5 separate regions of the Homo sapiens genome follow, and all the other regions are linked to region 3. Evidence: fine-mapped expression QTL. A gene starts in region 3. Each other region holds a variant in brackets. All regions are shown on one strand. Distances are between the middles of the regions.

Evidence for each region. PIP is the estimated chance that this variant, and not a neighbour inherited with it, causes the effect. A credible set is the group of variants that fine-mapping cannot tell apart.
Region 1: its variant is the best candidate, but not a certain one, in a credible set for the expression of CARS1 in naive CD8 T cells (Schmiedel 2018, PIP 0.64).
Region 2: its variant is the best candidate, but not a certain one, in a credible set for the expression of CARS1 in nasal epithelium (TOPMed, PIP 0.70).
Region 4: its variant is the best candidate, but not a certain one, in a credible set for the expression of CARS1 in whole blood (TOPMed, PIP 0.84).
Region 5: its variant is the best candidate, but not a certain one, in a credible set for the expression of CARS1 in lung (TOPMed, PIP 0.52).

Annotation. Positions count from the first base shown.
Region 1 is chr11:3,022,048-3,028,416 of GRCh38, reverse strand. It overlaps CARS1 (cysteinyl-tRNA synthetase 1), which reads left to right. Exons shown (of 23, transcript NM_001014437.3): 10 at 1,620-1,741. Among named protein-coding and RNA genes, the nearest start is that of CARS1-AS1, 4.2 kb to the left of the region's middle. The variant T/C (reference allele first, on the strand shown) is at 3,416.
Region 2 is chr11:2,936,461-2,942,829 of GRCh38, reverse strand. No RefSeq gene overlaps it. Among named protein-coding and RNA genes, the nearest start is that of PHLDA2, 10 kb to the right of the region's middle. RefSeq lists a silencer at 2,545-2,721. The variant G/A (reference allele first, on the strand shown) is at 3,519.
Region 3 is chr11:3,053,603-3,059,971 of GRCh38, reverse strand. It overlaps CARS1 (cysteinyl-tRNA synthetase 1), which reads left to right and starts at 2,549. Exons shown (of 23, transcript NM_001014437.3): 1 at 2,549-2,629. The coding sequence starts at 2,605. LOC124902615 (a long non-coding RNA gene) reads right to left here and starts at 1,348. Exons shown (of 2, transcript XR_007062555.1): 1 at 954-1,348. RefSeq lists an enhancer at 2,363-2,895.
Region 4 is chr11:3,180,774-3,187,142 of GRCh38, reverse strand. No RefSeq gene overlaps it. Among named protein-coding and RNA genes, the nearest start is that of OSBPL5, 19 kb to the right of the region's middle. RefSeq lists an enhancer at 4,170-4,670. The variant G/A (reference allele first, on the strand shown) is at 3,438.
Region 5 is chr11:3,007,749-3,014,117 of GRCh38, reverse strand. CARS1 (cysteinyl-tRNA synthetase 1) reads left to right here. Exons shown (of 23, transcript NM_001014437.3): 18 at 1,842-1,923. Among named protein-coding and RNA genes, the nearest start is that of CARS1-AS1, 18 kb to the left of the region's middle. The variant T/C (reference allele first, on the strand shown) is at 2,635.

The DNA.
Region 1 (6,369 bases), 32 kb after region 3:
CTCCCCATGTGTGGAGATGAGAGATTGTAGAAATAAAGACACAAGACAAAGAGATAAAAGAGAAGACAGCTGGGCCCGGGGGACCACTACCACCAAGACGCGGAGACCGGTAGTGGCCCCGAATGCCAGGCTGCACTGATATTTATTGGATACAAGACAAAGGGGTAGGTTAAGGAGAGTGAGCCATCTTCAATGATAGGTAAGGCCACGTGGGTCACGTGTCCACTGGACAGGGGGCCCTTCCCTGCCTGGCAGCCAAGGCAGAGAGAGAGAGGAGACAGAGAGAGGCAGCTTACGCCATTATTTCTGCATATCAGAGACTTTTAGTACTTTCACTAATTTGCTACTGCTATCTAGAAGGTAGAGCCAGGTGTACAGGATGGAACATGAAGGAGGACTAGGAGCGTGACCGCTGAAGCACAGCATCACAGGGAGACGGTTAGGCCTCCGGATAACTGCGGGCGAGCCTGACTCATGTCAGGCCCTCCACAAGAGGTGGAGGAGCAGAGTCTTCTCCAGACTCCCGCGGGGCAAGGGAGACTCCCTTTCCCGGTCTGCTAAGTAGCGGGTGTTTTTCCTTGACACTTACGCTACCGCTAGACCACAGTCCGCTTGGCAACGGGCATCCTCCCAGACGCTGGCGTTACCACTAGACCAAGGAACCCTTCTGGTGGCCGTGTCCGGGCATAACAGGAGGTTCACACTCTTGTCTTCTGGTCACTCCTCACTATGTCCCCTCAGCTGCTATCTCTGTATGGCCTGGTTTTTCCTAGATTATGATTATAGAGCGAGGATTATTATAATATTGGAATAAAGAGTAATTGCTACAAACTAATGATTAATGATATTCATATATAATCATATCTAAGATCTATATCTGGTATAACTATTCTTATTTTATATTTTATTATACTGGAACAGCTCGTGCCCTCGGTCTCTTGCCTCGGCACCTGGGTGGCTTGCCGCCCACAGTAGTGCTCAGCACTGTACCGTGCGCCTGCTCCCAGAGACCCACTGTGTCCAGCCTCAGATTGCTTCCCTCCCACAGGAACCACACAGGCTGGATGAAAGAGAAACAAGAGGTTGTGACAGTGCCAGGAACGGGGCAGACTCTTAAGCAGTAGCGCTGCTTCTCTCCCCACTTCACACAAACTACTGTGGGGCAGCATAAGAGCCTGTGCCAAGCCGAGAGGCATGGGCAAGCCGAAGCTCAGAGAGGACAGGTCATTCCAGACTGGAGTAATCTAGAGTGCTTCTTGGAGGCCAAGAGCCTCAGCTAAGCTAATGGGTAGAGTGTGGACATTCAGGGAAAGGTGAGGCCACACAAGAATGAGGACGGCAGCAGCCCTGAGCAAGGCAGGGTGGGAGCTGCATGGGTCACAGGACGCCAGGCAGAGGGACGAGCTGCCCAGGGCAGGCAGGCTGCCTCCGCAGCGGGATGGGCCCTGGTGTCCCACTCAGTCCAAACAGCTGATACGGTTTTCAGTGGCCACCACAGAGAGTAGATAGGCCACAGATTTCGCACTTTTATAGCCCTGCTTTATTTTGTTACTGTCATCCTGCTGACACACTTTCGGGTCTGTTAGATGCACCCACCCAATTCCTTTTCTGTTTTCCAGCTATGTCTCCAATGGGTCTGTCTACTTTGATACAGCGAAGTTTGCTTCTAGCGAGAAGCACTCCTATGGGAAGCTGGTGCCTGAGGCCGTTGGAGATCAGAAAGCCCTTCAAGAAGGGGAAGGTGAGGAGGGCATGCCTGAGAGCATGTGGGCTCTCCCTCCTGGCCCAGCCTGGGTTGTGTTGACTTTGCAGGCCACGGGGGCTGCGCTGAGCCCACCCCTCAGACTCTTGGGAACAGTGCTTTTTCACCTGAAGGAATTTTAGGAGTTTTCTGCACTCAACATTGTGCAGCTCTAAGACCATGACATGTGTTTTTTTAATGGATATATAATAATTATGCAATTTATGGGGAACATGTGATGTCTTAATACATGCACACCGTGTGTGATGATCGGGGTAGTTAGGATGCTCGTCACCTTAGACGTTTACCTTTTCTTTGCATTGGGAATGTTCCAGATCTTCTGGCTATGTTGAAATATACAACAAATGTTTTGGTAACTATAGTCACCCTACTGTGCTAGTGACCACAAGAACCTATTCTTTCTGTCTGTGTGTTTGTGCCTAGAAACCAACCTCTCTCCACTCACTGCCCCTGACCTGACTCTTCTCAGCTTCTGGTGACCACTGTTCTATGCTGCACCTCCTTGAGGTCCACCGTTTTTTAGCTCCCACATAAGAGAGAGGACATGTGATATTTGTCTTTCTCTGCCTGGTTTATTTCACTTAACAGAATGTCTTCCAGTTCCATCCATGTTGCTGTAAAAGACAAGATGTCATTTTTTTATGGTGTGTTATTTTTTAAGAAACAAAAGACAGTAAACGCAGTGCTGTCTTGAGAAACATAGTGGCCCCTGGGGCCTGGATTCACAGGGCTGGTGTTTGCTGGCTGAGCATGTGAGGTTTAGGGGGATTGTGGGGTGCTGGGATGTGTGCCGAGTGATGCATATTTGACAACAGCCTGTGCGCCCATCTGGATCCAAATGCTTCAAACACAGATATCAGACTTTTTCTAGACCAGGCAGAATTATATTGGGAACCCTTTCGTTGGTGTTTTCTTCATGTTTATCCCTTAAGTGAATCTGGGGACACATCCACAAGAGGCAAGGTTGGAAGCCTCCCTGCAGAGTGGGGATTCCCGCAATGTGCCAGGGCACGTTCTGCACCCCCACCCCGCCTGTCCTAGTGTTTCTGGAAGACAATTTGGCCATAAAAATGTTCATACTTTTATCTAATTTTAGGCTCTATTCTAAAGAAATATCAGAACCTAAAATAAAGGTGCGGTGGCTCACGCCTATAATCCCAGCACTTTTGGAGGCCGAGGTGGGTGGATCACCTGAGGTTGGGAGTTCGAGACCAGCCTGGCCAACATGGCGAAACCCCATCTCTACTAAAAATACACAAATTAGCCAGGTGTGGTGGTGCTTGCCTGTAATCCCAGCTACTCAGGAGGCTGAGGCATGAGAATCACTTGAACCCAGGAGGCAGAGGTTATAGTGAGCCAAGATTGTGCCACTGCACTCCAGCCTGGGTGACAGAATGAGACTCTGTCTCAAAAAAATATATAATAAAATAAAACCAGACAACACAGACTGAAGAAAGATAGAGATAGCCAGGTTGACACATAAATATCAGACCCATGGCATTTCAGGCTCCGGGTTTGTGGGAGTAGAGGGGCGGGTTTGTGATGATGAAGCGCCTCAGCTCTGAGAGGATGCAGCCTGGGCCTCTGGACCAGAAGGCTTCACTACCCTAGAACCAGAGTGGACATGCCCACGTTTCATGCACTTCCCAGGAG[T/C]TGACAGATCAAGTAGGCCAAGAATTAATACGGATATGAAAGGTTTGAAATACAGTTAACAGGCTTGGTTTGAGAGCTGGGAACTTTGCACTCAGGAATTAAAGAACATCCTTTCCTTCCAAGAACACAGAAACATATGCCAGGCCACAGAAAGATTTCCACAAATCTCAAAGAACCGTTTTCAAGGAACCCTCATTCTGTCAAGGAGCCCTCATTCTGTCACCATGGAGCGATTGTATTAGATAACAACACTTGGCCAGACATGGCGACCCACACCTGTAATCCCAGCACTTTGGGAGGCCGAGGCAGGAGGATCGCTTGAGCCCAGGAGTTCCAGACCAACCTGGGCAACATAGGGAGACCCCCTTTCTACAAAAAATTTAAAAATGAGCTGGGTGTGGTGGCACGTGCCTATAGTCCCAGCTACTTAAGAGGCTGATGCAGGAGGATCACTTCAGCCCAAGAAGTCAAGGCTGCAGTGAGCCCTGATTGTGCCATTGCACTCCAGCCTGGGCAACAGAGCAAGACTCTGTCTCAAAGACATTAAAAAAATTTTTTTTTTAAAATAAAAAAGATACCAACACTGACAGGACGGACGTCTAAAATGTACAAACTTGTCTGGGGGGTTGAAATCATGCTCCTGGATAACTCCTAGGAAAGAAAACCACAGTGGGAAATCAGGGGTGTTTAAGCAGAACAGCAGCAAAGGTGCCACACACCAAATCTGGAGAATGCCCCTAAAGCACCAATTAGAGGAAACTGATGTTTTTAAATGTAGTTATTAAAAAACAAAGATGGAAAATAAGTGAGGTGCCGGGTGCAGTGGCTCACGCCTGTAATCCCAGCACTTTGGGAGGCCAAGGCAGGCGGATCACGAGGTCAGGAGTTCGAGACCAGCCTGGCCAATGTGGTGAAACCCCATCTCTACTAAAAATACAAAAATTAGCCGGGTGTGGTGGCGCATGCCTGTAGTCCCAGCTACTCGGGAGGCTGAGGCAGAAGAATCGCTTGAACCCTGGAGGCGGAGGTTGCAGTGAGCTGAGAGCGTGCCACTGCACTCCAACCTGGGTGACAGAGCAAGAGTCCATCTCAAACAAAAAAAAAGGAAATAAGTGAGCTAAGCAGTCAGTCAAAAAGCTGGGAAAGGAACAAGAAGAAGTAGAAAGAAATAGGAGGAAATAAAGTAAAATCAGAGATTAAAGAAACAGAAACAATTGTAAAAGCCAAAAGCTGATTCTTCTCAAAAAATAATATAGAAGAACCCTTAGCAAGTTTGATTAATAAAAGTAGAAGATTGAAAAACATATTAGGGCTGAATTATAGCTCATGCCTATAATTCAGCACTTTGGGAGGCCGAGGCAGGAGGATCGCTTGAGGCCAGGAATTCAAGACCATCGTGGGCAATGTAGTGAGACCGCATCTCTACAAAAATTTTAAAAATTAGCTGAGTGTGGTAGCATGCACCTGTAGTCCCAGTTACTCAGAAGGCTGAGGTAAGAGGGTTGCTTGAGCCAGGGAGGTCGAGGCTGTAGTGAGCTGTGATTACACCGTTGCACTCCAGCCTGGCTGACAGCAAGATCCTGTGTGTGTGTTTGAATGTATGTATGTATGTATGTATGTTTGAATAACAAGACAAAAATGGAATGTAACTATGGATATAGTAGAGCATTTCTTAAAGTCCTTAGAGGAAGCCGTGAACAACTCGCACTGCATTTGACACTTAGATGCCGGGAGGGAACTGGCAGCACATGGGAAAGGTGGGAGTGGTAAGTGGAGCAGTGCCCTCAGGTCACGTGGTGAAGGAATGTTCTGGAGGCAGCTAGAGCACACTGACTCACCACTTTATGATGAATTTTGCTATCTGGCCCCATCTAGGGTCTTTTTCTTAAATACCATTTATTCTTGGGCCCATTTTCTTCCAGAATGACTTCAGCATTGGTTTAAGTTCCAGGAAACAGGAGTAGAATCTAACAGCCAATATGCAGGACCAAAGAGGGACATGGATTTCCACCCCTCCACAGTCAGTGATCAGACGTGGGCACATGACCACCCCCGCAACCTCCCCCCACCATGGGGAGTCATAAGGAGTGTAGCCTTAGCTCTGTGCAGTCATGTGCTCCTCGCCATGGGGACTCTAATGGTAGAGGAAAAGGGGAGGGGTGATGCTGGGGCCCAAGTGGTCCTAGATGATGACAGCTCCTCACTCCGCCAAGTAAGATGACCCACCAGAGGCAGATGGGCCATGCAGACCACTCGGGAAGGCACGTGGCAGGAAGGCCTAGTGCAGGGAGGAAGCTCCCCCAGTGGGAGAGAACAGGACCCTGTTGTGCTGGTATGAACATGCTTGTAGGGTCAAAGCTAGAAACACTCACTCTGCCTCTGGGGAGAGAGACAGGAAATGAAACCAAGAAGGAAAACTTGAAAGACATTGTGTTGTAACCATAATAGGTCTGTTGCCCAATGCACAGCGAGTCAGTATACCGGGATACCAGGGGTTGCCGTAGAAGAAGCGTAGTAATTGTATGGTGGACAAATGGAGATGGGAGGAAACCTCAGATCCGCCTCCCTGAGATTTGGGGAGGGGTTTTTAATTGCTCTGGACAGGTGATGGGGATTGCCGGTTGCTGGGGAAGTGAGGGGCGAAGTCATGGGACAGGGAGGTAAACCACATTTCTGCGACGAGTCAGTTCCTTGGTGCAGGTCTTCAGACCAGTTGGCAACAGCTGTCCTGCTGGAATTCAGGATCCAAAAAATACCTTAAGCAGTTCTTGGTAAAAAGGTCCAGGGTTAGAGATTCTATCGCTAGGAACAGTGGTGGAGCAGGTGGTCAGCGTGCTATGTGACTCTCAGTTAGAGCTGCAGGGAAGCGGATGGACGTGCACTGCACCTGGCCAGTGACCGGCCTCATCATTCTGCCTATAGCCTGCCTTGGAATTCTCATTAACCCTATGAGG
Region 2 (6,369 bases), 120 kb after region 3:
CCCTGGCTGGGGAGGCAGACATTCACCGTCCAGCCCCGCCCCACCCACCCCACCCCGCTTGGGGCTCCCCCAGCCCCTGCCCTTCCTGTGACTGTTCACCCTGTGCGGGAACTGAGACTCAAAACCAGTGGCGCTGGGGTCAGGGCAGGAGTTTGGGGAGCAGCCCGGGAGATGGGAGGTGGGGCCTGGGGCACCCCCACCCCCTGCACAGGTGGCTCAGACGCTTCTGTCAGCTGCCATCACACGGGTGCTCCTGGGCAAGGAGGGAAAGAACCCGCACGGCAAGCAGCCAGGCACAGAAGACCTGGAGGGCCCTGTTTCTGTCCGGTTCTAGAGCCTGCAAAGCTATAGTGCCGGTGACTGCCTGGGAGGGATCTGGGGTGGGGGGACTGACCAAGGAACGCTTTAGAGGGATGGAAGTGGTTACACAGGTGTATACGTCTGTCAGAATTCATTGAGTTACATCAAAAATGGGTATATTTGGTTGTATATAAGTTAGTCCTCAATGAAGCTCAGCGTTGTTTTTTTTTTTGAGACGGAGACTCGCTCCATTGCCCAGCCTGGAGTGCAGTGACACCATCTCGGCTCACTGCAATCTCCACCTCCCAGGTTCAAGCGATTCTCCTGCCCAGTCTCCCAAGTAGTTGGGATGACAGGCATGCACCACTGCACCTGGCTAATTTTTGTATTTTTAGTAGAGATGGGGTTTCACCATGTTGGCCAGGCTGGTCTCGAACTCCTGACCTCAGGTGAACTACCCACCTTGGCCTCCCAAAGTGCTGGGATTACACGTGTGAGCCACCGTGCCTGGCCTGAAGCTCAGTTTTCAGAAGTCCCCAAAACAGGGTGATTCCACTTAAAATTCTGTTTTTTCCCTTGAGTCAGGAGCTATGGCTCCCTAGAACCTGATGGCTGCTGCTTTCCCCAGCAGGGTCACCTGGGACCCTTGTCCACAGCTGCCTGGCGTGTGGGTCCGCGGGTGGTGTGTACCCCAGGTCAGCCTACCTGGCCAGTCTGCTCTCTAGGCTCATGACTCCCGTTTATGTGGAGCTGGGACCAAGCCGACATCCCACTCTGCTCCTGTCCTGCTGCCCAGCAAACCTCCCCAGGCCCAAGGGCCACCCATGGGGCCAGAGCCCCCTTCCCCAAGTCCCAGGTCCAGGGCTTCCTGCCACCCCACCCATCTTGTCCCACTCTCAAAATGCCCTAGGCTGCCCCCAGCCCCATCGCTGGGCAGGCTGAGTCAGCATGAGCTGCCAGGATCCAAGCTTGCCCCTGAGGTGGGAGGCAGGGGTGGGGTGGGTAGGGGGCAGCCAGCTGGCTCCACCAGCCAGCCAGGTGGGTAGGTGGAGCCCCTGGCCTCTGCCTGGCTCATCCAGGCACACCTTGATATTACTGACCTCTGACCTGCCCCTGCTGGGTCCTTGGCTTGCCTGGCTCTGAGTCAGGGCTCAGGGCTGGGCAACTGGTGAGCAACAGAGGAACAGCCAGGGGCAGCGGTGGGAGAAGTGACCGTCCCAGACTCAGCCAACTCCAGCTGCAGTGCCCTGAGGGAGCCCTGGGCCTGCAGAAGGGGTTGCTGTGTGCAGAAGCCTGTGGTTCCCTGCCAGCCAGGCCAGCCTGGCCACAGCCTGGCATGGACTTCGGCCTCTGCCCCAAAACCCTCAGAACAGGTGCCTTCCCAGGTTCCTTCTGCTGGAGCAGGCACCTCCTCCCCAGCCCGCCCCAGGGAGCATCCCCATGTGGAGTGGGGGGCCCAAGGGACCCCAGGCCCAGCTGTTTGGACCCCACCCACCAGGAGACACTGGCAAGCAGTGGCCCCCAACAGCAGGGCCTCCTGGAAGGACGCCTCCTCGGGCTGGCCCTGGCTGAGCTTCTGATGCGCTGAATTTGGTGTGGGTTTCCAGGCACCTCATGCGCCTGGGACATTCCCCATTTAAGAGATGCAGACCCGAGTCTCAGGACAGAAGCCAGGGCCCAGCTCTTGCAGGGTGAGGCCTGGACGCCTCTTGCCGAGGCCAGGTCACCTTGGTGTGCCTGAGGGAGGCCCCGCCTGCTAGGCTGTCCCCAAGGTGCCAATCACTAGCCCATCCTGGCCATGCTGACTCATGGCTCTCTGAGGGTGGCAGCCGGATGTTACTTACCATGACAACCCAACAGCCTGGCCCAGCCCAGCCCAGCCCAGGAGAAACGGGGCAGCTACAGCTGTGTCCAGGACCCCACTCAGGGCGGACCCACACAGATCACCCTTGTCGAGCTCCTCAAGAAGTCTGTGGTGTCCACCAAGTTTCCAAATCTCCCTAGGTCTCAGTTTCTGTATCTGGGACATGGGGAGAAGCTTCACCTCCTCAGAACCCAGACCCTGGGCATGGCAGGGCTGCCCACACCGGCCCTCACCAGTGCCTGCCTGGCTGGAAGCCAGTCCGAGGAGGGAGGACAGTGCCTCACTGAGCAAGGCGGGTGCAGGGCTGGGAGGACAAGAGGGAACGCCTGGAGATGGGGCCTCAGGTGCAGGCACTGGCCAGAGTTGCTAGAGTCTGCTGCCCCCAGCCTGGGGGCCGCCAGCGAGGGCCTGAAGTGGTCCCTGGGTCTCAACCTGCCCCTTTTCAGCAGGGGCTGCCCTCCCCAAGGACCAGAACACCAGACCTTATGTGGGGACCCTTCCTCGTCATCTGGGGGCTCCAGGCATTCCTTGGCTTGCAGCCACTTCCTTCCGATTTCTGCCTCTGTCTCACGTGGCCTCCTACCCCTATGCCTGCTTCTCCATAGTTCTCCCTTGTGAGGCCCACCTGGGTAGTCCAGGGGAAGCTCCTGCTCTCAGGGGCCTTTCCTATATCACACCCTAGCCACTAAGGTCATGTTCACCCATTTGCCATCAAAGGTAACATTCGTGGGTTTCAGGGAGTAGAACATGGATATGTCTTATTGGGGGCCACCATTCAGTCCATGAAAGGGGTCTTTCAAACAGACCAAAGCACATGAAGAGGGGAAAAGACAGCCACGCCAAAGGCCACAGACACCCAGAGAGATGGCTGCCCCCACCCCAGGGATAGAGAAATGTGTGTGAAGACCTCAGTTTTTGACCACCAGATTGTGGGGTTTTGTTGTTGTTGTTGTTGTTGTTTTGTTCGTTTGTTTGGTTGTTTGGTTTTTCCTGAGACAGGGTCTCACTCTATGGCCCAGGCTGGAGTGCAGTGACACTTTCTCAGCTCACTGCAACCTCTACCTCCCAGGGTGAAGCAATTCTTCTGCCCCAGCCTCCCGAGTAGCTGGGATTACAGGTGCATGCCACTGCACTAGGGTAATTTTTTCTATTCTTAGTAGAGACAGGGTTTCACCATGTGGGCCAGGCTGGTCTCAAACTCCTGAACCCAAGTGATCCACTCACCTTGACCTCCCAAAGTGTTGGATTACAGGCGTGAGCTATTGCCCAGATTGACTTTTTTTTTTAAGTACAGAGTGCCCACCATTGGCCTAGCCATGGGGAGATTGGCATTGCAGCCCTTGGGGGAAAGGGT[G/A]AATAGGAACAGCCCCACTGGCAGGCCATTTTGGCAGTTACCACACATCTGAGGGCCTTGCTAGCCCAGCAGTGCCATGTCTGGTGTGCAGGAAGGCAGTGCCATGTAAGATGACAGCAACAGGGACCCAGCCCAAGCCCAACCATCACAAGGGGTGGCTGAGACATGGAGGATTCCAGATAATGAGGGCTGGGGTGGGGGGTTCCTGGAAGATGGCCCAGACAGAGGAAGAGACACAAGCTCATACCCCCGCCTGCATGGATATTCATATGTAAATGCATTTTTAAAACTGGTAAAGGGTACATCACAAGTTACATTCTTAACCATTTTTTAAAGTGCACAGTTCAGTGCCACTAAGCATAGTTACACTAAGCATATTCACACAGCATATTCACACTAAGCGTATTCACAGCGTATTCACACTAAGCATATTCACACCGAGCATATTCACACCGAGCATATTCACACTAAGCGTATTCACACTAAGCATTTTCACACTGAGCATATTCACACAAAGCATATTCACACAAAGCATATTCACACCGAGCATATTACAAGCATATTCACACCAAGCATATTCACACCGAGCATATTCACACCAAGCATATTCACACTAAGCGTATTCACACTAAGCATTTTCACACTGAGCATATTTACACCGAGCATATTACAAGCATATTCACACCACACCGAGCATATTCACACCGAGCATATTCACACCGAGCATATTCACACTAAGCGTATTCACAGCGTATTCACACTAAGCATATTCACACCGAGCATATTCACACTAAGCGTATTCACACTAAGCATATTCACACTAAGCGTATTCACACTAAGCGTATTCACACTAAGCATTTTCACACTGAGCATATTCACAGCATATTCACACAAAGCATATTCACACCGAGCATATTACAAGCATATTCACACCAAGCATATTCACACCGAGCATATTCACACCAAGCATATTCACACTAAGCGTATTCACACTAAGCATTTTCACACTGAGCATATTCACACCGAGCATATTACAAGCATATTCACACCACACCGAGCATATTCACACCGAGCATATTCACACCGAGCGTATTCACACTAAGCGTATTCACACCGAGCATATTCACACCGAGCATATTCACACCGAGCGTATTCACACTAAGCGTATTCACACTAAGCATTTTCACACAAAGCATATTCACACAAAGCATATTCACACCGAGCATATTACAAGCATATTCACACCACACCGAGCATATTCACACCGAGCATATTCACACCGAGCGTATTCACACTGAGCGTATTCACACTAAGCATTTTCACACAAAGCATATTCACACAAAGCATATTCACACCGAGCATATTACAAGCGTATTCACACCAAGCGTATTCACACCGAGCATTTTCACACAGCATATTCACACCGAGCGTATTCACACCGAGCGTATTCACACCGAGCATATTCACACTGAGCATATTCACACTGAGCATATTCACACCGAGCATACTCAGCATATTCACACTGAGCGTATTCACACTGAGTATATTCACACTAAGCATATTCACACTGTCATGCAGCCGCCATCAGCATCTGCCTCCATGATTTCTCATCTCCCCAAATGGAAACTGTGTCCCTATTAAACTCCCCATTGTCCTCTCCAGCTCCTGGCACCTGCCCTCCTACCTTCTGTCTCTGAATCTGACGACTCTTGGGACCTGGTACATGTGGAATCATTCAGTACTTGTCTTTTTGTGTCTGGCTTATTTCACTCAGCATAGTGTCCTCAGAGTCCATCCGTGCTGTAGCTTGTGTTAGAATTCCCTTCCTTTTTTTTTTTTTTTTTTTTGAGATGGAGTTTCACTCTTGTTGCCCAGGCTGGTGTGCAATGGTGCAATCTTGGCTCACCGCAACCTCCGCCTCCTGGGTTCAAGCGATTCTCCTGCCTCAGCCTTCCAAGTAGCTGGGATTACAGGCAGGCATCACCACGCCTGGCCAATTTTTCAGGTGATCCACCTGCCTTGGCCTCCCAAAGTGCTGGGATTACAGGTGTGAGCCACGTGCCCGACCAGATTTCCCTTCCATTTTAAGGCAGTGACTATTCAGTGTGTGTGTGGACCACATCGTGTGTGCCCATTGTCAGTGGATACTTGGTGGCTTCTACCTTTTGGCATGCTGCTGGGAATATGGGTGTGCATGGATCTCTAGGAGAGACTCTAACTTTTAGTTCTTGTGAGCATGTGAATGAGAAGTGGAATTGTTGGATCACAGGGCAATCCTATATTTAATTATTAAAGGAGGTTGGGTGCTGTGGCTCACTCCTGTAATCCCACCACTTTGGGAGGCCAAGGCAAGTGGATCACCTGAGGGCAGGAGTTCAAGACCAGCCTGGACAACATGGTGAAACCCCATCTTTACTAAAAATACAAAAAAATTAGCCGGGCGTGGTGCCACATGCCTGTAGTCCCAGCTACTCAGGGGGCTGAGGCAGGAGAATCACTTGAACCCAGGAGGCGGAGGTTGCAGAGAGCCAAGAACGTGCCACTGCACTCTAGCCTGGATGACAGAGTGGGACTCCGTCTCAAAAACAAACAAACAAAAATCAATTGTTAAAGGAAATGTAAATGCTTTTTTAAAAAGGATGAGGCCAGGCACAGTGGCTCACACCTGTAATTCCAATACTTTGGGAGGATGAGGCAGGCGGATTGCCTGAGCCCAGGAGTTCAAGACCAGCTTGGGAAACACAGTGAGACCCCATCTCTACAAAAAATATACAAAGTAGCCAGGCATGGTGGCATGTGCCTTGTAGTCCCAGCTACTCAGAAGGCTGAGGTGGGAGGATCACAACCTCAG
Region 3 (6,369 bases):
GAAACCCGTCTCTACTAAAAATACAAAATTAGCCGGGCATGGTGGCACATGCCTGTAATCCCACCTATTCGGGAGGCTGAGGCAGGAGAATCTCTTGAACCTGGGACACTGAGGTTGCGGTGAGCCAAGATGGCACCATTGCATTCTAGCCTGGGCAACAAGAGTGAAACTCCGTCTCAAAAAATTTTTTTAAATTAATTTATATATGTGTATTTATTTATTCATTTATTTATTTTAGAGACAGGGTCTCACTCTGCACCCAGGCTGGCATGCAGTGGCACAATCATAGCTCACTGCAACCTGAAACTCTGGGGCTCAAGCCATCCTCCCTCTTCAGCCTCCCAGAGAGCTGGGATTACAGGTGTGAGCCACCATGCCCAGCTGAAATTTTCCCTTTTTACAAGGATATCAGTTATACTGGATTAACGTCCCCCCTAATGACCTCATCTTATGACTTTATCATCTGCAAAGACCCTATTTCCAAATAAGGTCACATTCACAGGTCCTGGTGGTTATAGGATTTCCACATCTTTTGGGAGAGACACAATGCAACCCATAACAACCTGTAACCCAATGTGCTGTCCCAAAGAACTACAACACCAGGGGGATGCTGAGGTTCAGAGAGTGTCCTTGCCCTGGTGGTAGGGCTGGGACGCAGCAGGACTGGGGAGGCGGGACCCACTGCTGCTAGACACTGCAGCACTCTTAGACACAGCTCGGCCACCTGAGCAGGTGATCATTTCCCAGTTCCGCTCTGCAGACCCTTTTTTTTTTTCCCAGTAGAGATGAAGTTTCACTATGTTGGCCAGGCTGGTTTTGCACTCCTGACCTCAAATGACCTGGCCGCCTTGGTCTCCCAAAGTGCTGGGATTACAGGCGTGAGCCACAGTGCCCGGCCCCACTTTGCAGATTTAAAAACAAGACATCTGGAAGCTCAGAGAAGTTAAACTCACCCCAGGTCTTACAGCCAAACTCTGGCTTGCCTGACCTGATGTCAGGAGGCTTTCTTAGTGCAAGAAAGGAAGGGCAGGGCAAGCCTTAGCCGAATGTTTATCTCTAAGAGGCTTCTGACTCTCCTGGGCGCCTCCGGTTCCTTCTCCCAGGAAGGCATGTGGCCGAGCTGGGCTTGGGTGACTCATGGTCCTAGAGTGATGAGTGAGAAACAGGCACTGTGAGAGTCATGGTAGGACCTGGCCAGAACTTCGTCCCCTAAGTCCTGGACTTGGTCCCTCCTTTGGGATTAGTTGGGGTCTCACAGAGCCTCCCACATCCTGGGCAAGTTACAGCACATGCTACAGGATCTTTGCAGAAATGTAAACAAACTCTTTCTTCTTTTTTTTTTCCAGCCACCAGTAGAATTTAGAATTTATTTATTTATTATTTTATTTATTTATTTATTTATTTATTTATTTGAGACGGAGTCTCACTCTGTTGCCAGGCTGGAGTGCAATGGCGCAATCTCGGCTCATTGCAACCTCCACCTCCCTGGTTCAAGCGATTCTCCTGCCTCAGCCTCCTGAGTAGCTGGGACTACAGGCAAGCGCCACCATGTCCAGCTAATTTTTGCATTTTTAGCAGAGACAGGGTTTCACCATGTTGGCCAGGATGGTCTCGATCTCTTGCCCTCATAATCCGCCCACCTCGGCCTCCCAAAGTGCTGGGATTACAGGTGTGAGCCACCGTGCCCGGCCTTAGAATTTATTATGAAATTAGACATGAGGTTCCAAAAAGTAACTAGAAGATTTTTTACTTTTTATTTTTTGAGAAAGGGTCTCACTCTGTCGCCTAGGCTGGAATGCAGTGGCACAGTCGTAGCTCACTGCAGCTTCAAACTCCTGGACTCAAATGATCCTCCTGCCTTGTCCTTTCAAGGTGCTGGGATTACAGGCATGAGCCACTAATCCTGGCTAATAATTTTTCTTGACATATTAAAATTCTGTTTCTTAAATAGCATTTCCTCTCATTTTGGATGGGTGCACGAACCTTGGGTGGGATATCCTTGGGAGGTGACATCATGCACACAGAAGGCAGGAGCCCTAAGGGGGTTGGGGATGGCTCCAGAATGGGGTCTGAGAAGGAGATGGAGAAGCCTGTTCACGCAACACTTCATAGTGGCTTGCTTTCCGCAGGGTCATTGGCAGGGCGGTCCCTAGGCCTGGAGCGCTCTTCCCGCCCATCCCCAGGCCCTGCTCCAGGTCGGCCTCCTGGGAACCATCCCGTCTCGCCAGCACACCCTGTCCCGAGGCCGCCTCTGACCTCCAGGCTGGGCCTGGTCCCCACGGCGCTTAGCGCAATCATGACTTAAACACCTATTACAGGACGCTCAGTCTTTAGTGCTTGTCTCCCCGCGGCTGGGCTGACTACTCCCAGCACGGCCACTGAACGCTTGGCCGCGCGATGCTCCGGAGCGCGGGTCGCCATTGGGTTGAACTACAGCTCCCAGCATGCTCCGGGCCGGCGACATCCGGAGCCCCTGGTAGTTGCCTAGCGACCGGGCGTGTCCCGGAAGACGGGCCCGGCGTGGGGCGCGACTTCCGGGGCGGCGGTTGCATCAGATTCTAGGAAGTGTCTGTAGCCGCAGCTGCGGGTCCGGGATTCCCAGCCATGGCAGATTCCTCCGGGCAGCAGGGTGAGCGGCGCGGCCGGGCCAGGCTGAGGGCGGCTGGGGGCCTGACTGGGCGCTGGGTGCTCGGCTCGAAGGGCAGCGAGTCCTTATGTCTGAGGGGCCCGGGTGCATGGGTTCTGAGGGGCAGCTGTGTCCGTGGTCTGAGGGGCGGCAGTGCCCGAGGTCTGAGGGGTGTCAGTGCGCGGGGTCTGAGGGACGGCACGTCCTTGGGTCCGAGGGGCGGGGGTGCTCGGGGTCTGAGGGGTGTCAGTGCCCGGGGTCTGAGGGACGGCGGGTCCTGAGGTTCGAGGGGTGGCACGTCCTAGGATCCGAAGGACAACGGGTGCCCGGCTCCGAGGGACGGCCACTGGGACCCCTGGGACTCCTGCGTGAGGGTCTGCCAGACCCGTGGCTGGAGCACAGACCCCGCGGGGACCCGAGCCCGAGCGGGGCGCTGCCCAGACCACCCAGCCTCAGTTTCCTCACTTGGTTCCTGCCGAGGTCCCCTTGCATCCTCACCCCGGGAGGTGGCCCTACATCAAACAGCCTTTCCCCAGCCGGTGCCTGGGCGGGCCCTCGCTCCCTCTTGCCCCAGCTGGCCTTTAGGGGGGAGACAAAGGCCCAAGGGTTGTTTTGGTTTTCTGCCCAGACCTGGCAGCTTCCGGGAGGTGGGCGGAGGGCACCTGAGGTTGGTATTTAGGGAAATGGGGCAGAGGACGCCAGGGGTACGCGTACACACAGTAAAAGGGCTTGGGGCTTTACGAAGGCTTTCATCTCCAGTTCCGCAGGCAGTCCACTGCAAGCTGATTGTCAGAGCATTACTGCCCCATTTTATTGCCAACCCGGGAGGTTCCCCAGGGACACAGCTGTGTCAGCTCCCCCAGTCACTCATGTCACCAGCGGGTAGACCTTGAGAGACCAGTGGGTTCTTCTCTCACTGTCCCTCCAGCAAGATTTTAGGTGCTGGAAAGGCAAGAGACTGAATCAGAAAGCCCAGATTCCTAACAGTCTGGAGCAGCCTTTCCAAAGGAAACATTCTCAGTATCTAGTTTTTAATTCTTTTGGCTGGCAAAAATTAGATGCAAGTTCTTGTAAGACACCTCCAGCCCCCACCCTCAGTTTAGATCGTACCAAGATTTCCTTAGCATCTGGTGGTGCCCTTTGCCCCTGAGGGTTTATTGGGTTATAGATAGGTAGTTATGACAACCCGAGTAATCTGGCGGCATGGGGACACCCAGATGACAGGGCTACACTCTTGTGCCAAGTGGCAGGAGGTGGTCACCTTCCAGGCACGCCGCCTACCACCCTACCTGTGTGCCTGGATTCCAGCACCATCTCCACCCGTCCCAGAGCCAAGCGGCCCTCAGAAGTCACCCAGATTCCTGTAAAACAGCATCATAGTTAACAGCCCCAACTCTGGAACCACCCTGGAAGGGCCAGGGTTCCAACTCTGCCTCCCGCCCCACAGCAAACCATGCGTAATGGCTCCTACCTTGGAGCATGGAGTGTAAATGAATTAATAGATGGGAAGGACGTAGAACAGTGCCTGGCACTCAATTAAGTGCTGTGTCTGTGCTGAAAGTTAGGGCCTGTTTGTTTTCAAACTAAAAATGTGTTTTTGTTCATTTGTGAACGTAAATGACGTATTAGTAGTGTTTTGTATCTTGTTTTTAAAAATAGCTTTAGAATTTTAGGTTTTCAGAGCCTTGTAAGAATTGCCTTCTTTTTGGAGCTTGCCATATAGGTTGGGATTGCCCTCTCCGGGCTGTCAGGGCAGCAGGCAGATTGCCCAGTCCTCAGCCTGCGCACAGCATCTCCAGCCAGTGTTCTTCTGCCCCAGGGCATGGCCCACCTGCCTTTACTATCGCCTCCTCCCATCACACACACACTCTCAAAGATGAGAACAGGAAATAAAATCCAATCGTAGGCCAGGCGCAGTGGCTCACACCTGTAATCCCAGCACTTTGGGAGGCCGAGGCAGGCAGATCACGAGGTCAGGAGATCGAGACCATGGTGAAACCCTGTCTCTACTAAAAATAAAAAAAAAATTAGCCGGGCGCGGTGGCGGGCGCCTGACTACTCGGAGGCTGAGGCCGGAGAATGATGTGAACCCAGGAGGCGGAGCTTGCAGTGAGTCGAGATTGCGCCACTGCACTCCAGCCTGGGCGACAGAGCGAGACTCCGTCTCAAAAAAAAAAAAATCCAATCGTAAATGCTTTCAGTGACCATCTTCCCAGATTTTTCAAGGAGGCCATCATTTTTGTACCATCTTCCCTAAGTTGACTCAGAAGGTCTATTTCTCTTTCCTGATCTCACTGGGTGTACAGCTTTTCCTTTGCGGTCTTGAAGGTGCATAGGCTTGGTGCCTGTCCAAGAGCCTGATTATTTCAGAAGGATGAGTTTCATTTCTGAGGTTTCTGGGGTAGATGGAGCCTACCTCAGGGCCTTTCCGCACAGACTTGGGATACCACTTGGTCGGCTGCTCATCAGGTCAGACTTATAGTTTAATTTTTATACAGTTTAATTCAAGGGTCTTCATAATAACACAGCCAGCATTTTTTCAGCATGAGTCTGTGCCAGGCACTGCTCTAAATGCTTTGCATCTGTTATCTCCTGCCACCCTTGGGGGAACCCCTTTGAGGAAGATCCTGCCGGCATCTTGTACAGATGAGAATCCTGAGGTTCAGAGAAGTCAAGCAATCTGTCCACCATCACGACTAGCCAGAGGCACAGCCAGGCTCCCAACCTGGGCAGCCTGACTCAATAGGGACCTTAACTGCTGTGCTGTGCTGCCTTTGATGATTCTCTTCAGACTCACAATAGCTCAACCCAGTGAGTTAAGGCAGACGAGAATAAAGCTGATGCCCTTCGATGTTTTCCCCAGAGCCACATGAAATGTTTGCTCCTCTATGAACTCAGGTACCATGTTTCCGGGTATTTGAAGAGCCTTAGGCAGTACCCTTGGGGTGGAGATTAAGCCATTTCCAGTGTGGGTGCTCTGGGTGGCAATATTGCTGTCTGATCACCCCACAGGCTCATTGTGAGGGATGTTGGATGCCCCTAATAATGAATAACCTCCCTCCCAGTAAGGAGGAAGATGGAGATGCTGTTCTTGGGGGTGAGAGAGGATGCCTGGGGGCCACCTTTGTGAACGAGTTGCAGCTGGACCTCCGGGGCTGGTGATCAGGACGGGGAGTGGGAGGGGAAGCCCTCACCTGTGGGAGGAGGCGCTGGTCTCTGGGAGTGGGCAGTGTTGGCTCCTAGTTGGTGAGAGCAGGGGTGCATGCCCCTCTCTCCTCCCCACGATTCATGTCTGGGGGCTTTTTCCGGTCCCCTTTCTGAACACTTCTTGGGCAGGGAGTGGATCACTGGGAAGGACCCAAGAGGAGCAGCTGTAGAGGGTGGGACCAGGGGAACATTTGCAGAAAGGGAGTAACCTGCAGGGTGAGATGTTGCCTGGACACCCACAAGATGAGGACCCTGGTGGGACCTTTGAAGTAGCAGGGTCAGAGGGCAAAGGGTCAGGGTGAGTGAGGGGTGCAGACCCCCACCAAACCGGGGCACTTATTAGGAGCTCAGACCTGCTGTAAAGGGGTCTGCATTTTAGCAAGCTTTCCACCCATGGGGAAGCTGGTTTAAACCTCACTTGCTGGGCCCACCCCAGAGATTCTGATTTGGCAGGTCTCTGGTGAGCCCAAGAATGTGACTTCTCTGGATCCCCCAGGTTCTGCTGCTGAAGGCACACCAGGGCCATGCCTGGAGTG
Region 4 (6,369 bases), 130 kb before region 3:
CTGCTAATCACCCATGCATGTCTAAAGGGAGAGAGGTCTCAGCAGAAAAGCAGATAAACTATTATTAAAAAGTCAAAAAAACCACAGATGCTGGCAAGGCTGCAGAGAAAAGGGAATGCTTATGTTATGCACTATTGGTGGGAGTGTAAGTTCGTTCAGCCACTGTGGAAAGCAGTTTGGAGATTTCTCTAAGAACTTAAAACAGAATGACCATTCAACCCAGCAATCCCACTCATCACTGGGCACATATCCAAAGAAAAATAAACATTCTGCCAAAAACACACCTGCACCTGCATACCCGTCACAGCAACTGTTCACGAGAGCAAAGACGTGGAAGCAACCCAGGTGCCCATCAGGGTGGATGCAAAGGAAACATGGTACACATACACCACGGAATACTACGCAGCCACAAAAAATGAAATCATGTCTGTTGCAGCAACATGGATGCAGCTGGAGGCCATTATCCTAAGCTAACTAATACGGAAACAGAAAGCCAAATATCACACGTTCTCACTTATCCATGGGAGCTAAATCTTGGGTTCACATGGACATAAATATGGGAACAACAGACACCGGTGACTCCAAAAGGAGGGAGGGTGGGAGGGGCAAGGGCTGAAAAAGTTCCTGTTGGGTGCTATGTTCACTACCTGGGTGACGGGATCAGTCATCCACCTGACCCCTGGCCTTTGTCTGCATGCACTTGTGTCTGGGAATGGGCCAGACCCCAAGCCAGAGCTGCTGCTGTCAAGAGGGCCACCCCACACTTGCTGCCAAGCTCCTCTGGCAAGGAGCACACAGAGGTGCCCTCTCTCGGGAAAGAGATGTAACTGTCAGGGGTTCTGCCAGGGGTCCTGGAGGCTCTGCCAGGTGTCCTGCTGGTGGTGTCTCGGAAGCCCTGATTTCTTGGGGCAGGAACCTGCCAGAGGCTCCTGTCAAGTTCACTTACCAAAACCTCAGCACCACACAGTATTCCCTTGTAACAAACCTGCACGTGTTCTCCTTACATCTAAGAGAAAAAATGGAAACTTGTTTTAAAAAGACAAGGAAAGGGGTTTGGGGGAAAAGGGAAAGGGGGCGGGGAGAGCATTAGGACAAATACCTAATGCATGCAGGGGCTTAAAGCCTAGATGACGGGTTGATAGGTGCAGCAAACCACCATGGCACTGTATACATATATAACAAACCTGCACGTTCAGCACGTGTATCCCAGAACTCAAAGTAAAATAAAAATAAAATAAAATAAAATCAGAATGTGTTTCCCAAAAAATAAGAACCCTCTCTTTCACAATAAATACAGTTGGGAAGTATTAAAAAAAAATGAAAGAAAGGAAAAGAGAACGACTATCCCCAAATCTCAGTGATTGAACCCAAAAGTTTATTTCTAACTCACACTGCATGTCTATTGAGGTTTTTGGAAGACTCTGCTAGTCACTCAGAGGCCATGTTGAGGAAGGTTCTACCAACCAACTTTTAGCCATGTTATTTAGACCATGAGGCCTTCTCTGTCACTATGGTAGGGGAAGGGAGAGACTGGAGAATCACTTTGGGCTAGTTTACCATCAGCTCCCCATTTGATACAGCATCATTACTGCTATGGGTAGAATGTGTGTCCCTGCAACATTTGTAGGTTGGAAGCCTCCCCCGGAACGTGATGCTATTTGGAAGCGAGGCCTATGGGAGTGAATTACATCTAGGTGAAGCCGTGAGGGAGGGGTCCTCCCCCATAAGTGTCCTTATGAGAAGGGACACCAGAGAGCCAGCTTTCTCTCTGCTTCTGCCAGGTGAGGATACAGCAAAATGGTGACCATCTGCAGACCAGCAACCACGCTCTCATCAGACACCAAACCTGCTTGTACCTTGACATGGTTTGGATTTGTGGCCCTGCCCAAATCTTATGTGGAACTGTAATCCCCAATGTTGGAGGAGGAGGAGGCTGGGGGGAGGTGATTGGACCGCGGGGGTGGACTTCCCGCTTGCTGTTCTCGTGATAGTGATGAGTACTCATGAGACCTGGTTGTTTAAAAGTGTGTAGCTCCTCCCTCTGGCCTCTCTTCCTCCTGCTCCAGCCATGTAAGACTTGCCTCCTTCCCCTTCGCCTTCCGCCACGATTGTAAGTTTCCTGAGGCCTCCCAGCCATGCTTCCTGTACAGCCTGCGGAACGGTGAGTCAATCAAACCTCTTTTCTTTTATAAATTACCCAGTCTCAGGTAGTTCTTTATAGCAATGTGAGAACAGACGAGTACACACCTTAATCTTGGACTTTCCAGCCTCCAGAATTGTGAAAGACAAATACTTGTTGTTTAAGTCACTCAAAAAAAAGCAGATCAACCACTTTATTTTAAATCTAAGAAATAGGTCTCCCTCTGTCACCCAGGCTGGAGTGCACTGGTGCAATCATAGCTTACTGCAGCCTCAAATTCCTGGACTAAAGCAATCCTCCTGTCTCTGCCTCCAAAGTAGCTGGGACTAGAGGCATGCACCAGTACATCCAGCTAATTTTTTTTTATTTTATTGTACAGATGAGGTCTCACTATGTTGCCCAGGTTGGTCTCTAGTTGTAGGGACTACAGGTGTGAGCCACCAATCCCAACCCCAGATAAACCACTTTTTTTTTTTTTCTGAGATGGAGTCTTCCTCTGTCGCCCAGGCTGGAGTGCAGTGGTGCAATCTTGGCTCACTGCAACCTCTGCCTCCCAGGTTCAAGCAATTCTCAAGCCTCAGCCTCCTGAGTAGCTGGGATTACAAGCATGCACCACCTTGCCCAACTAATTTTTGTATTTTTAATAGAGACAGGGTTTCACCATGTTGACCAGGCTGGTCTCAAACTCCCGGCCTCAAGCAATTCACCCACCTCGGCCTCCCAAAGTGCTGGGATAACAGGCATGAGCCACCGTACCTGGCCAGATAAACCACTTTTAAGAGTCTAGATCTGCACTGTCCATAGTGTAGCCACTGGCCACACAGGGCTACTTAAACTGACAACATTAATTAAAACTCGGTTCCTTGGTGGCACCAGCCCCATTTTAAGAGCTAAAGAGCTGTGTGCAGCTGGTTCCTCCTACAGCGAGCCAGGCAGCTTGAGGGACACTGTCATCGCTTCAGAAAGTTCTATTGGTTGGAGCCGTTCTTGACCTTGTTTGGGTTGCAAGAGGCCAGAATTGGAAAAGTAATCCCAAATGCTTATAGGTTCTGAATGGGCTAAGATTTTCCACAAAATAGGTCCTTGAATAGAAATGAAGAGAACCATGGTGAGTTGTTGGGAGGTGGAGTTACAATTCTGTCCCACAGAGGGTGTGGACTTTGAAGAGGACGTGGTGTCCACTAGGAAGGAAGAAGGACGGGGATGGGCACTGGGCAAGGCCTTCTCTGGAGTCCACCTCCCATCCTGAGGAGGTCAAGGCAAGGACCAGAAGCTGCAGGCCCGGCCTGGCCCGGCC[G/A]TGGTGCAGCTGGGGTGGGACACAGAGTTTCCAAGGTAGGAAATAATTACCCCTTCCCTCACTCTGTCCTCGCTAAACTGCTCTTGCCAGCCTACCCTTGTCTCCACCCTTGGCAAGTGCAAGAGTGGGGGCCCCTTTACTCCCTGGCCAGAGAGCTTGGCACCAGGAGAGGGTCAGAGAGGGTGGTTTGGATGTGGTCTGTCTCCACCAAAACTCGTCTTGAAATTGGGTCCCCAGTGTGGCAGTGATAGGAGAAGGGCCTAGTGGAAAGCGTTTGGGATATGGGGGCAGACCCCTCATGAATGGATTAACCCCTCCCAAGGGAGAGAGTGAGTTCTTCAGGAAATGATTCATTCCCTGGAGAGTAGGTTCTTAAAGAGTCTAGTTGTAATCCCAGGATTTCAGGAGGCTGAGGTGGGAGGATCACTTGAGGCCAGGAGTTCCAGACCAGACCAGTGTAAGCAACACAGCAAGACTCCATCTCAAAAAAAAAAACACTTTTTTTAAATTAGCCAGGTGTGGTGGCCACACCTGTGGTCCCAGTGACTGAGGAGGTTGAGGCAGGAGGACCACTTGAGCCCAGGAAGTCAAAGCTGCAGTGAGCTATGACAGTGCCACTGTACTCCCGCCTGGGCAACAGAGTGAGACCCTATTTCTAAAAATAATAATTTAAAAGTAAAAAAAAAAAAAGAGGGAGTCTGGCACTCTTGCTTTCTCTCACCACGTGGCCTCCTTGCCCATGCCTGCCCCTTTCCATTTTGCACCATGAGTGGAAGCTGCTGAGGCCCTCACCAGACACAGTTGCCCAATCTTGATCATCCCAGCCACCAGAACCATGAGCCAACCTCTTTTCTCTATAAATTACCCAGCCTAAGGTATTCTGTAATAGCAACACAGAAAGGACTATGACAGAGGGTGACTGTCCCCTGCCCCGCCATAGCCAAGGCTTGTAGCACTGCTCCACAGCCCTGCAGAGCCACTGTGTGCCCCTTCATCTTTGGCCAGAGTACGAGGTGGAGCAGCTGGGCTCTGCTGCTGTCCTATCACAGGACACACCCGGCACCCAACAGCTCAGGAGACCAATGACTGGGCAGGACCTGACCCCTGGCCTTTGTCTGCATGCACTTGTGTCTGGGAATGGGCCAGACCCCAAGGCAGAGCTGCTGCTGTCTAGGAGGGCCACCCCACACTTGCTGCCAAGCTCCTCTGGCAAGGAGCACACAGAGGTGCCTCTCAGCCCTGCGGTGACAGACCCACCCTCACCCAGCTCAGGACAAGGCTGTGGTCATTTTCCAACCGGACACTCACTCAAGGTTCCACATTTGCTTTCAGGGATTTTGAAGTGGCTGCACCCTGGCCTGGCCTGTAGAGGCCCTCGGGCAGTCCTCCCCTGCCAGCATCGATGGCGCCCTGGGGCTGCTCTGCTACCCTCCACAGATGACCAATATCTGTGGGGCCCCCACCTCATGACCCAGAAAGCACACCTTCAGAGAGCTTGGGGCCCCCAGCACAGCCCTGGTGACGAGACCCCAGCATGTCAGGACCAGAAGTGTCTCTGGAAACAGCCACCTCTGGAACCTCTGGAGTGTTTTCAATGCCTGCTGCTTTCTTTTCCCCCCCCACATATAAGTAATAAGCAACGATTCGAAAGCAAGCAAATGTGGTTTGTGCATTAGACAGGATTTGAGCATGAGCCGCGCTCGGGCCTGGATCCTTTTTTCGCCATTCCATTCATATGCCTTTTTTGAGGGGGCCTGGATCCTTTTTTCAGCATTCCATTCATATGCCTTTTTTGAGGTATAGTTGTATTTGGTGTCAATCATAATCCTCAAAGACACAATCCTGAACTGCATAATCCACAATACTGAAATCCCTAAACCTAAAATCCCTCACGTCAGATTAAAATCTGAATGCCAAAATCCTGAAAGCTGAGTCCTGGGGAAAGGATTGGTGCCTGTCTGTCTGTCTGTGGTGCCTGTCTGTGACAGTTGCACCGTGTTGGGCGGAACTACGACCTTGTTAAGTCTTTATTTGGAAGTTAAGTATGATCTAAAGAGATGAGTGTGGGTGCCAAGTGGCAAGAGGTAGACCTGTGTGGACCTAATTTCAGGTATCAACTTGACTGGGCTGAGAGGTACCCAGAAACCTGGTAAAACAGTAGTTTAGTTGTATCTGTGAGGGTGTTTCCAGAGGAGACGGAAACATTCTCAGCTAAGCAGCATCTAAATGCACTTGCTTAATCACAAAACTTGAGAATAGCAGGAATGAACGTCTGCCCTGACAAATCTTTTGTGCTGGCATCATACAAGCGTGTTTCCATCCTGTTATTAGATATCATCCTTATTTTAGAGTTGATAATACTTCACTCACTCATGTGTGAGCCTGAGTGGACTCGGGGGAAGATCAGCCCTCGGTGTTGGCAAGCACCATCCAATCAACCAGGGCCTAGAAAGAATAAATACAGAGGCAGAAAGCAAACCAGTCTTTCTCTGAGAGCTGGGACAGACTCTTCTTCTGCTGCCTTGGACATGAGAAATCCAGGGTTGCCAGCCTTTGGACCCCAGGACATACATCAGCAGCCCCCTTGGGTCCTGAGGCTTTTGTGGACTCAGAGTTAGAGACCACTGGACCACCGGCGTCTCTGGTTCTGAGGCCTTTGGACTTGGACTGAGCCTTGCCCCTGGCATTGTGGGATCTCCAGCTTGCCTGTCATGGGACTTCCCAACCACCATAATCACGTGAGCCCATTCTCCAGGGAAATCCCTGCTCTTATATCTGTATACACATCTTATCAGTTCTGTCTCGCCGGAGAAGCCTAATATAGATCTGGTATTGGGGAAGTCAAATACTCCTTCTTACTGTGTTTCTCACAACATAATGGAACAGGGCTGTGAAAGTGATCCCTTGCAAAAAGGCTGTGATAAGTTAAGTG
Region 5 (6,369 bases), 46 kb after region 3:
AAGGCTTGTCTGGGCTGGCTGTGTGGTGGGTGGAGATACAGATCGAAAACCCCCAAGAAGTCCAAAGTTCAGATGCAGAATTGGGTCTCAGGGAGCTTGGCTTAGACTTAAGGGCTTGCTAGCCTGCCTGACTTTTGCACTTGCTAAATTTGTGTGTTTCTGTTTTTGAGACAGAGTCTCACTCTGTCGCCCATGCCAGTCCCTGCCCTGTGTCGTGGCCGCTGAGCTATTATTCAGTTATGGATATAGGAGTGTGAGCAGCTCTCAGCGAACAAAAACTCTTCTTTCCACAGCTGGAGTGCAGTAGCGCAATCTCCGGTCACTGCACCCTCTGCCTCCCGAGTTCAAGTGATTCTCCTGCCTCAGCCTCCTGAGTAGCTGGGACTACAGGCATGCACCACCATGCCCGGCTAATTTTTTTTTGTATTTTAGTAGAGACGGGGGTTTCACTATGTTGGCCAGGCTAGTCTTGAACTCCTGACCTCATGATCCACCCACTTCGCCCTCCCAAAGTGCTGGGATTACAGTTGTGAGTCACCGCGCCCAGCCAGCACTTGCTAATGTTTTTATTTTGGTTACTGAGCTGCTGAATCAGCTAAGGGGCAGGGAGCAACCTTGCTCAAAAGCCTAAAACCTTTTCTGTCCTATTAGAAAAAGAGAAATGCTAGCACAGCATGGTGGCTCACGCCTGTAATCCCAGCACTTTGGGAGGCTGAGGTGGGTGAATCACCTGAGGTCGGGAGTTCGAGACCAGCCTGACCAACATGGAGAAACCCTGTCTCTACTAAAAATACAAAATTAGCTGGGCGTAGTGGCGCATGCCTGTAATCCCAGCTACGCGGGAGGCTGAGGCAGGAGAATCGCTTGAACCTGGAAGGTGGAGGTTGCGGTGAGCCGAGATCGCCATTGCATGCCAGTCTGGGCAATGAGAGCAAAACTCCATCTCAAAAAAAAAAAGGGGAAATGCTTTGGGAGGCCAAGGCGGGCAGATCACAAGGTTAGGAGATTGAGACCATCCTGGCCAACAAGGTGAAACCTCATCTCTACTGAAAATACAAAAATTAGCCAGGCGTGGTGGCGCTTGCCTGTAATCCCAGCTACTCGGGAGGCTGAGGCAGGTGAATCGCTTGAACCTGGGAGGCTGAGGTTGCAGTGAGCCGAGATCACACCATTGCACTCCAGCCTGGCAACAGAGCAAGATTCCGTCTTAAAAAAAAAAAAAAAAAAAAAAAAGGGAAATATAGTAGAAAGGTTTTTCTATCCTGTGGCCACCTCCCCAGTGTTACTGTGGGTGGTGAATCTACGTGTAGCTGCTAATGTGCATGTAGATAGTAGGTGCTTAATGGAGATCATTCATCTTAAACAAGTGTATGTGTGACCACAGATCAGACGAAAGCACGGCCCGGGAGCCGCCAGCCTCAGCATAGGTAAGGCCCCAGCCTGGGGAGTGATGTCCTTGGGCTCCTTAGGAAATAGTCCCTCCCAGAGCTGGCCCCTCTGAAACCATAAAGACAAGCTGTTTCACAGCAGCGTGTCTGACCTGAGGAAAGCAGGGCCTGTCAGCAGCTGGGCAGAGCGGCGGCAGACCCACCTGCTGCAGTAGAAAGGAAGCTCACTTCATGCTCTCTGGCCTGAGAGTCTGTGTGACTCGCACACCTAGCAGGGACTGTGTGTCAGGGACGAGAGCGTCCAGGCTCTGGGATGCCGGTCACAGCTGTAGTGTGCACAGCAGCACTGCCCATGCCAGTCCCTGCCCTGTGTCGCGGCCACTGAGCTATTATTCTGTTATGAATATGGGAGTGTGAGCAGCTCTCAGTGAACCAAAACTGTTCTTTCCGCAGCTCGAGGCCACAGTCATGCCCTACCTTCAGGTGTTATCAGAATTCCGAGAAGGAGTGCGGAAGATTGCCCGAGAGCAAAAAGGTGAGGACCAGTTGCTGGAAAGAGTGTGGGAGCCACTCCCCTCACTGGGCTCCCCGGACCGGGCGTCTCCCCCGAGGCACTATGGCGTTCAGGCCGGATCATCCTCTGGGAAGGCTGCCCCGTGCACCACAGGGTGTTGAACGGCATCCCGGGCCTGGACCCACCAGGTGCATTAGTACCACACGCTCCAGTCACCACAGCCCCACATGTCCCTGCAGGGCAGAATCCTCGAGTGAGTGCAGCTGAGTGGGCAGTGGGGACCGAGGATGTGATATGATGGGCCAGGGTTGATTTGCCTCTCCTTCTCTGAGCCGAGGCAGAATGGTGGGTCCTCTGACCAGCCCAGTCACCACCTGCCATTTGGCTCACACTGGGGCTTATTTTTGTTCCTGGTGACCTGGTAGGCTGGGTGCGCTGAGGTGTGGCTCGTTCCTGCTGCCGAGTGGAGCCGAGCTGCAGCTTCCAGGGTTCCCTTTTCTGCTCAGGCATGCCAGATGAATGCTTGAACTTGGGGTTCACACAGTGGCCCCTCACTGTCCATAAGCAGCCATTCCTTCATCTTTTTGTTTGTTTGTTTGTTTGAGATGGAGTCTCACTCTGTCTCCCAGGCTGGAGTGCAGTGGCGCGATCTCGGCTCACTGCAAGCTCCGCCTCCCGGGTTCACGCCATTCTTCTGCCTCAGCCTCCTGAGTAGCTGGGACTACAGGCGCC[T/C]GCCACCGCGCCCGGCTAATTTTTTGTATTTTTTTTTTTTTTAGCAGAGATGGGGTTTCACCGTGTTGGCCAGGATGGTCTCGATCTCCTGACCTCGTGATCCACCCGCCTCGGCCTCCCAAAGTGCTGGGAGTACAGGCGTGAGCCACCGCGCCTGGCCATTCCTTCATCTTTTGAAATTTCTGAGATGTGTGTGGTTTAAGACTTAGAAAGTGCTGAATCTGAGCATTCGTTTTGACTGCCAGTTTTAAGAAAGTGTTAAACACAGCAAAAAGCAGCATCAGGCAGGCCTTTGCTTCTTCCTGTGAGTGGTTCTGAATTGGTGAGTAACAGCACAGCTGGGAACACACACTGAGGACTTAGGATGTGCTGGGCCCTGCCCACTGCTTTCTGCACATTGCCTCATTTACCACCATGATCCTCCAAAAGAGGAAAGGAGAGCCCTGGCCGGGTCACACTGACCTCGAGTGCTACTCCATCACCTGCTGTGCTAATTCTCCCTCCCCAGGGGGCCTCTGTGTGGTGGGAAGTCTGACCTAGGATCCACCTGGTCCCCATCTGTGCAGAGCCCATTATGGAGGGTCACAGTGGGGCAGCATCCAGGCAGGGCATGCTGAAGACAGAGCAGACAGAGACCCAGCAAGCCTCTAGGAGAAGCTGCACCTTGAGGAAGGATCAGGAAGCCTGGGTGGGTGGAGGGGCCGAGAGGCGGAGGAGCCGAATCTGGGCCTGTTTCGGGCAGGGGACAGTGGAGCAGGAGGCAGGAGGGCAGGAAAGAGTTTCGGGAGCTCGGGGCTCCACAGGCTGCAGGAGAGTGCAGGACACTGGGTGAGAGGAGAGGCTGGCCGGGCTGCTGGGCTGCTGGGCTGCCACAAGTGCTCTGGAGAGGGGCCTGGGCCTGACTGAGCCCCTAACAGGCAGCGGTGGGCGCACTTGCCCTGACCACATAAGCACCATCGCCCCTTTCCAACACCTGATGCCCTCAGCATTTCAAAGCACTGGAATCAAACTGAACCAAGCCTGGACCAGCCTATTCAGGACCAGCGCAGGGCTCTCCAGCAATCTTGGCAGCACTAACTTAGCGGCATCGCTGGGGTCGTGGGCTTGGGAAGACCATTCCTGGAGGTCGCCTGGGCATTTCCACCTGCCTTCTGGGGGACATCGAAGGCCGAGCCCGGGCCCCAGCTCCCTGGGGTCATACAAGACTGTGCACGTGGCCTTGGCTTCCCTGGCATGCCACAGCCCCGGGAGGGCGCTAAAGGGGGACTGGCCAGGCACAAGCTCCCGCTCGGTGGCACTGACCAGGACAGGACTTGCTCAGGCCTGGAGAGTGGCACCAGCCAGCCAGCATTGGAAGTAGTTCGGTTTTGCTTTCTGTTTGCTTTTCACTTTTGTTTTGTGGCTTGGAGCAGGTAGATGGGTGATGTGGCCCCAGGTTAAGATGGTGGTGATCCCTACCCTGTACATCATCCCATATGTGCCTTGTGAGCCAGAGACCCTGGGGATCCAGGGGCCTCAGACCTTCCGACGGGGCAGCGTGTTAGAGGTGGCTCTGGTGCAATCACCCTGTCTCCCCAGCAGCAGCAAATAGTGACTGTTTTGTTATTCACTGTTAACATCTCATGGCTGGCCAAAGAGAAAGTGAGTGTATAACAAGCTCAGGGGTGGCCCTCAGATCAGCTGGGATCTGCTTGGCCCAGGCCAGATGCTCCACAGACAGACGAAAAAGAAACTGTTTCCCCTGGAAATACCCCCATGGTCCAGTCAGCTAGAGAGCACAGGCCTGGCAAGGAGGGCAATGGGTTCAGGGTTTGACCAGGAGAGAGGCACTGAAGTGAGAAAGCCAGGGGCTGGGCCAGGGCCCTCTGCACTGGGGAGATGATGCCATTTCCCCATCGCCACGGTTTTGTTTTCATTATGTTAAAATACACAGCTCAGTGCCATTAGGGACATTTACAGTGTTGTGCAGCCGCCACCGTCCATCTCCAGAACTCTTCCCTTTTCCCAAACTGGAACTCTGTCCCCATGGAACAGCAACTCCACATCCCCTCCCTCAGCCCCTGGTGCTCACCCTCTACTTCTGTCTCTTTGGATTTTACTACTCCAGGGACCCTACATGAGTGGAGTCACACAGTGTTTGTCCTGTGTCTGGCTTATTTCGCTGATCACGGTGTCCTCAGGTCTATCCATGTTGCAGCCTGTGTCAGGACCTCCTGCCTTTTTAATGGCCAAATCATATTCCATGGATGGATGGGCCCTGATCTGTCTATTCTTCCATGGAAGAATTCTCATCACCTTTGCGTTATCTTTGTAGCCCACATTTCTCTTCAGTAAATCCCTGATGATGATGTCATTGTCTGCTCCTCTGCCCCAGCTCTGCTAACAGAAGCCACAGAGGCTTCTTCCTCAGCTCCTCAGAATCCAGACCCAGAGGTCGGTGTGGGCCTGAGGGGTACGGCGTGTGTCCCTTTCCCCCAGGGAGTGTGGCCCGGGAGGCTTTCTTGGTGCCTGCTCTGATGATCACCCATGGCGGGTGGGCTGGGGTGCTGGCCTTGTGGCCTCCCATGACACCCGTGACAGTGACCACAGGTGCTGGCTTGCCTTCCTTCTAATGAGGGTGCTATCCAGGGGTGGCTTTCAAAGAGTGAAGGGCAGGCACCTACCTCAGCTCATGCCCCAGTCAGCTGCTCCTCAGGTGGCTGAGGAGGGCCTGTTCCCAGGAATGATACTGCAGACAAATATAAAGGCCATTGTTCCCCTAGGTCTCTGCCTGGGGAGGTTGAAACTCCGGAAGCTGCCCAAAGTGGCTGTGCTTATGAGCGCGGCCTTGAAGCCCAAGGATATGCAATTTTTTTTTTTTTTTTTTGAGATGGAGTCTTGCCCTGTCGCTAGGCTGGAGTGCAGTGGTGTCATCTTGGCCCACTGCAACCTCCGACTCCCTGGTTCAAGCGATTCTTCTGCCTCAGCGTCCCAAGTAGCTGGGATTACAGGCACATGCCACCACACCCAGATAGTTTTTGTATTTTTAGTAGAGATGGGGTTTCACCATGTTGGCCAGGATGGTCTCGATCTCCTGACCTTGTGATCCACCCGCCTCAGCCTCCAAAAGTGCTGGGATTACAGTCATGAGCCACCGTGCCTGCCCGGATATGTGAATATTTTATCTAGCAGTGAATGAAGGTGTGGGGTGCCCAGCAAGGAGCTCTAGGGGTCTCAGTTATGAGGACACAGCAGGAAAAGGACAGACGAGAATGGCAGCATGTGCATGGTCAGTGCTGCCCAAAGGCAGGGCAGGCAGGAGGATGGGGTGGGATGGTGGGGGTCCCAGCAGGCTGGGGGGCAGGGCACCTGCCCGCCTAGCACAGTTGGGCGCAGCAAGCTGAGGGGCCAGAAGAAAACTAAAGGGTGTGGTGATTCCAGCAAACCCAAGGTCAGATTTCAGAGCAGAAAGTTGTCACTTGGAGAGCAGCAAGCATCTGTCCTGTTGATGTAGTCTAGGAGATGCTGTCACATCACCTGATACTCTGGAGTCTTTCTGAGATAGGTTGGCATCCCATTTACCCTGTAACACCCAAAACTTCTTATGTCCTGTTCTCTACCTGGGCGTTGTGCGTGGGCTGGGAACGGGAAAACTCGGGCAGAGCAGAGACACAGAGGGGGCGCCTGCTAGAGACTGCGTGAGGAGCCCACTAGGAGAACCGTGGGATGCCGGGCAAGTCTGCACTGCTGCGCTCT